Regions from separate parts of the Homo sapiens genome. Here region 2 is reported to be linked to region 1. The links are microRNA targets in miRTarBase. Many come from high-throughput screens and were not tested one by one. Region 1 holds a microRNA gene; the other region holds the end of a gene's coding sequence.

The links. The annotated mature microRNA hsa-miR-5192 reads AGGAGAGUGGAUUCCAGGUGGU and lies in region 1 at 2,200-2,221, shown strand. An mRNA with a match to its seed (bases 2 to 7 or 8) in the 3' UTR can be bound and repressed. Matches are read on the target gene's strand: a 7mer-m8 pairs with bases 2 to 8, a 7mer-A1 pairs with bases 2 to 7 and ends in A, and an 8mer does both.
Region 2: miRTarBase lists CBL as a target of hsa-miR-5192. The part of its 3' UTR that is shown has no 7-base or 8-base seed match.

The regions. Positions count from the first base shown.
Region 1 is chr2:62,203,683-62,206,922 of GRCh38, forward strand. MIR5192 (microRNA 5192) reads left to right here and starts at 2,144; the gene lies at 2,144-2,235. All of the region lies in intron 1 of B3GNT2 (UDP-GlcNAc:betaGal beta-1,3-N-acetylglucosaminyltransferase 2), which reads left to right.
Region 2 is chr11:119,299,324-119,302,323 of GRCh38, forward strand. CBL (Cbl proto-oncogene) reads left to right here. Exons shown (of 16, transcript NM_005188.4): 16 at 172-3,000. The coding sequence ends at 458. Among named protein-coding and RNA genes, the nearest start is that of MIR6756, 12 kb to the right of the region's middle.

The DNA of each region.
Region 1 (3,240 bases):
GGAGAGGCTGAAGATGGGGGAAACAGTGGAGATTGCTATTGGTGCAAGACCCCAGAAGCAGCAAGAGCTGTCACAGGGAGTGGAGATCCTGGGAGTTGGGGGTCAGGGACTGGCTGATGTAGAGAACTTGAAGTAGGTTTTGGTCCCAGAGCTGACATCAAATGTCTTTGTAGCTATGGCAACCCACTTAGCTCCTGTTTCCCACCTCCCTGCAGAATCGCATGAAACCTGCACAGCCAATTTCACATGTTTATTATTGGAATCCATTGAACTCATGAATATGAAAGTGTTAATGCTCTGGGAAGATATTTCTATGGACCATAAACTTGCTGCAGTTTATTTGTGCTTCAGAATTTTTTTTGAGACAGAATTTCCCTCTTGTTGCCCAGGCCGGAGCGCAATGGCATGACCTTGGCTCACTGCAACCTCTTTCTCCTGGGTTCAAGCAATTCTCCTGCCTCAGTCTCCTGAGTAGCTGGGATTACAGGCATGCACCACCATGCCTGGCTAATTTTGTATTTCTAGTAGAGACAGGGTTTCTCCGTGCTGGTCAGGCTGGTCTCGAACTCCCAACCTTAGGTGATCCACCTGCCTTGGCCTCCCAAAGTGCCTGGTAGAAATTTTTCTAATTGTTTATTTTCTTTGAGAAGCACTTAACATCCAACTGGTTCTCCAAAGTACTTCTTTTTTGAGTCTTGATCAGGGAATAACACAATTGTGGTGAGTTTTATGTGCATGTGTGTTTTTAACCCTCCAGGTCTGGCTCTAGATTGTTCACTGGGAAGCCGAATGATATTTTCAGATTCAAATATATTTGTCTAATAATGAAAGGGTCGAAGTGTTACAAATGCTATCCTTTCTAAATAGTCAACATTTGGAACTAGTGAGATATATTTTTACCTTTATTATTTTATGGTTGTCTTTGAAGCTTGTTTATAAGGAACTTTTATGTAACTTTATTCTTGAGATGCAGCCATTATATTTTTGTTCTTTTCCTTTACCACATAAGGAATTATTTCCTTCAAATGAACTTAAAATATCTCTCATGAATACTCCTATTTTTAACTGAATGTTTCTCTTTTTTAAAAAACTTTTATTCTTCAAAGTTCTGATGGATCGTCTTTTTTTAACTCTTTATAATGGAAATTTTCAAACAAGTGCAGATACAGAGAATGGTATCATGAAGCTTCAGGTAGCCACCAGCGGCTTCAGGGTGATGATTCTTTATTTTCATCTCTACCCCACTCACGACTAGGGGCCCATGGGCACCATCTAGAGAGGGAGAGAGAAGAAGGTCACAATGGACCACAGAGTGGGCAGCCATCAATTTAGAGATAGCGGAGGCTGGGGGAGAAGATTGGACGCCCCCAGGGAGAGTGACAGGCAGACCGGCGAGATTGGAAGCCCGTGGCACTGGGATTGCTGTGGTCCCTCGTCCCTCCACATATGTGATCACCTATGGTATATGAAGGGAACGTGCAGAGACTCGTTTAAAACTGAGGTGACTCAAATTGCTTGGTAAAAGAGGCCCAGTTTTTAAGCAGTTCAATAGTGCCCACATATTGAGCAAACATGTTCTCTTTTTACTGTGGCGACAAAAACTTTTCTTGGCGGGTGGCCGGAGAAAGCTATGTTACTATTGCACTTCTTTAAATACGGAAGCAAGTCTTGGTCGAAGGCCTGAATGATGCCTCCCCTTTTATAGAACATTTGGATAAAAGGCCAAAGTGTTACTTTTTTTTGAGGATACGTATTTTAAAATGTATATGGTTTATTTTGATACTTAAAAAGCAACAACTTGAAAACAACAGTCCTGAAACACTTGTCAGTAAGGTGTTAGGATTTAACCAGCCTTTGAGAAAGGGAGAAGAGGCGGGACAGGAATCCGAGATGGAGCAGGGAGCTGGTTTGCTTCTTTGCCGCCTTGCTCTGAAGTTGCCACCCAGGGTCACACATCACTAGAAGTGTTTTCCTCTGGGAGGAGGATGATGTCTGACTGTGGAGAAGAGGCAGCATCCCAGAGGGAGCCCAATTTAACTGGATGCTCAGTGTGAGAGGAGGAGCGCTGGCATTTAGTGGCTGTGTGCCGTGGGCGGGGCCTGCCAGCCCTTGGCTGTCATTTGCCACCTGAGGGACAGGCTGCTTAGTTCCAGCCTCCTGGCTCACCTGGAACCATTTCTCCTGGGAAGCATGGTAGCCAGGAGAGTGGATTCCAGGTGGTGAGGGCTTGGTACTCCTTTTGGGGGATCCTGAGTGCCAGGAGAAGAGGATGAAATCGATGGACTGGGGGAATCAAGGCTGTCCTCATGGAAGAGGAGACAGGATTTGAACCTGGGCCTTCAAGGATGGGGGTAAGGATGGAGAGAAGCAAGATAAGGGATGTTTTAAGCCAGGAGAAACCAGGCTGAGAAGAGGTATGGGTGGGGAGGATAGTAGTTGTTGTTAAGGGGTGCTGGTGTCTAGAGGCCTCCGGGATGGGGTTTTAGGGGTGGCCTGCCTGGATCAAGGATCAGCTTGGACGTGCTCAGCGAGGATGGGGATGCCCATTTCCCTCCATGCAGCTCTGGGCTGGGGGCGGCCCATCTGGGTTCTCAGTTCCTGCCCTCTCCCTCTACTTTTTCTGGGAACATCAGACAACTTTCTGATCCTGTGAACCAGTTTACTTCTCTGTGAAATGAAGACACCTCAGTCACCACTTGACTGTGTATCCAATTGCGCCCATGGCATATGGACAAGCCCTCACTCAGCTAATGGGTGGGCACTAGGTGTGCAGTGGTTAATTTGTTTTATTATAAGGAGTGTCCTTGATACCTTTATCTCATTTCTCTATTTTTTTTCCCTTCCCCAAAGTGTTAGACCATGCACTTTAATCCAACATTATTTTTATATGTTTTTTATTCTTGTAGAGACAGGATCTCTCTCTGTTGCCCAGGCTGGCCTCGAGTGATCCTCTCACTTCCACCTCCCAAAGCACTGGGATTACAGGTGTAAGCCACTGTGCCTGGCCTAGTACAACATTATTTAAAAATCTCTACACATGTCTACTCTGCAGAACTTTCTGCACTCTTTGTGCCTGCTTTTGGAAGAGCGAGTCAGGCAGTTCTCTCCAAGCTGCTACCCTACAAGACTCCAAATGGATAAGCCAAGGAGTCCTGCAGTCTGAGGTTGTAGTACCTCACTTTCTGGTGTCCCCTTCGCTGTAACCAAGAGCATATTCTCTTTTAAGAAAATGTGTCACTG
Region 2 (3,000 bases), not on the chromosome of region 1:
AGGCTATATCTTAAAACCCTTGAACCTGTAAAACCCAGCCTTGTGACTGAAGAGCACATGTACCCAGTTTACAGGAAGTCAGTAATATCTTGATATTAGCACATTTTTATTGCTGTTGTTAAATGAGGATTTCCCCAGATTTGCAAATATTTTCTTTCCTATTTCTTCTAGATGTCACTGAAGGTTCCCAAGTTCCCGAGAGGCCTCCAAAACCATTCCCGCGGAGAATCAACTCTGAACGGAAAGCTGGCAGCTGTCAGCAAGGTAGTGGTCCTGCCGCCTCTGCTGCCACCGCCTCACCTCAGCTCTCCAGTGAGATCGAGAACCTCATGAGTCAGGGGTACTCCTACCAGGACATCCAGAAAGCTTTGGTCATTGCCCAGAACAACATCGAGATGGCCAAAAACATCCTCCGGGAATTTGTTTCCATTTCTTCTCCTGCCCATGTAGCTACCTAGCACACCATCTCCCTGCTGCAGGTTTAGAGGACCAGTGAGTTGGGAGTTATTACTCAAGTGGCACCTAGAAGGGCAGGAGTTCCTTTGGTGACTTCACAGTGAAGTCTTGCCCTCTCTGTGGGATATCACATCAGTGGTTCCAAGATTTCAAAGTGGTGAAATGAAAATGGAGCAGCTAGTATGTTTTATTATTTTATGGGTCTTGAGTGCATTTGAAGGTGTCCTTCAGTTCCCACGTAGAGAGAGTGTGGATTATATTACATGATAACCTACCTGGGGAACAGTCCAGAAAGCTATAGAACAAGTATTTTGCTGGAAATCCTAATTGAGGACTTAAGACTTCCTGGGTTAAGGATGTGGCCGTGTGTGTGTGTGTCTGCCTGTGGTTGTATGTGTCCTTGTGATTATAAGATTAACCTGCTGTGTGTGTTAATTCCAGGCAGGGAATTAGCACAAAAGGTTTAGGAAGGAATCTTTTTTTAAAGACTTCCATCTACTGTGGTATTATACCCAAGCCTAGTGTGTATTACAACTTCAACACTCCCCTTTGGCTTATATTACCATGTGCATAGCTAAAGTCTTCTATTTTTAGAACACCTTCTGTCTGTTCTTTCCCCATCAACTCCTTCCTCATCCTTCTTGGTGTTCTGTCATGGGCCATGGGCTTGCTATGGCCAGCCTTACTGAGGCCAAGCAGCTTATGGGATGTTCTTTATTGTGTGTGATGGTATTGGTTTGTTTGGTAGATAAGTGGGAGGAAAAGTACTGTTGCTACACTATTATAGGCATGTTTGATACTAGCAGCTAACACTGGTCACTCCAAAGCACTGTTTCTATAGGAACATTGAAGCTATTAAGATGTTTTGATTATCCTAATTACATAATGACCGATTTGAGATAGAGGCCTTTAAATACATTCCATGCCCTCCCCAGAAAATAGTCTGTGGGAGTCAGTTGCCTTGGTGCCAGGTATGTGTTCTGATGTAGGTCATGAGTCTTTCTACTTAATGGGAAGGGAAGAACATTTGTTTCCAGGATGACTTTCTGGCCAGAATACCGGAAAGCTTTTAGGAAGCTTCGTTCACATGCTATTTAAATGCACAAAATAGACAGTAAGGATTTATCTGTTCAGTTTTTCTTCCCAGTGAATTAATTTCAGCTTATATGGGTGTCTTCATTTGAACATGAGGAATATTAGGTTATATTTTCAGCAGTGGTTTTTTCCTTTGCCCTTTAAGGAGTGGGGATAATGTCCACGGTGGCCCAGCCTCTTGCTGATGGCACCTTCCCTGCATTGCTGCCTCCCGATGATGTGGTTCTTTTCTTGTGCCTGTGGCTTTGGGAATGTAACATCTCTTTCCTCCTTTCCTTCCCTTTTCCTCTTCACCTGAGGTCCTAAATACTCTCTGTAATTACTGTGTTCTTCACGGTAATTAGACATCATTCAGTGAATAAATTACTGTAGTCAAAGACAGTATGGGCTGGCAGTTTGTGTAATTGCAAGTTCATAAAGAGAATTGAGGGTCCAGTTGGGAGAACTATTAGTCAGTTCTTTTATATGCTGATAAATGATCCCTCGAGTTCAGTTAGTATTCTGTCCAGAGTGTTTAGCTCACTTTCTTAGCAGTGTGTAAGCTTTCTCCATGTCAGAAGCAAGCCTGCTCTTTGATAAATCTGTCTTCCTGAAAATCTAAATCATGCTTTTGTCTTTAGATCTACACAGAAATGACCCTCCTTGGATCAGTTTTCTTTCCAGTCTAATCATCTTTGGAACTAAAACTTGTTCTAACTCGTCTCTTGGCATTCAGCTACTCCTAGATCTTTTGGTTTTATCCCCTGGCCTCAGAGCCATTTATATTCCCAGAGTAGGCAGTACAGGATCTCGTGTTGATTTGCTGTGGTTACCCAGTGTCTTCTCTACATGGCATAAAGCGGCAAAGCCCACCATTAGGTGAGGCGGTCCCGAGTTGAGGTAGAGTGGGGCAGAGGAAGATGGCAGTGAATATCAAACAGTAGACCGCCATCAACTTCTAACAGCCAGTACACACACTGTTTCATTTTGAGGTAACGTTCAGTTTTGCATTTTGTTTAAATATTGAAGGCCTAGACAAAGAACTAGAAAAAAAAAAGCAGTTTCCAGGCCCATCCATATTGTAATTTTTCTTTATCTGCAGATATTGCCTGTAGTCTAAAGATCTCTTTGGAAGACAAAGCATTGGCTATATATCTTTTGCCTTTTCCATGCATCTAAATCTTCTCTGGAGATTATCTCCCTACTGTGTAGGTTAAGGGCAGTCTCGACTTTTCCTTTTTTGAGTCCTGTGTGGCTCTTTGAATCAGCGTGAAACTGAGGCTCCAGCTCCCTGTGTTGTGTGTGTGTGCCATCCATGGGCTTGGGTGTCAGTTTGTCACAGGTATCTGCCAGCATTCAAGGTTTTGGATCATTTCATGAGGATCTTTCCTTTGACTGGGTGCTGTGAGGACACACCTGGGTCTGTGCCTGAGATTGCCAGGCAAGATTAAGGAAAGTTTTCATGTGGCT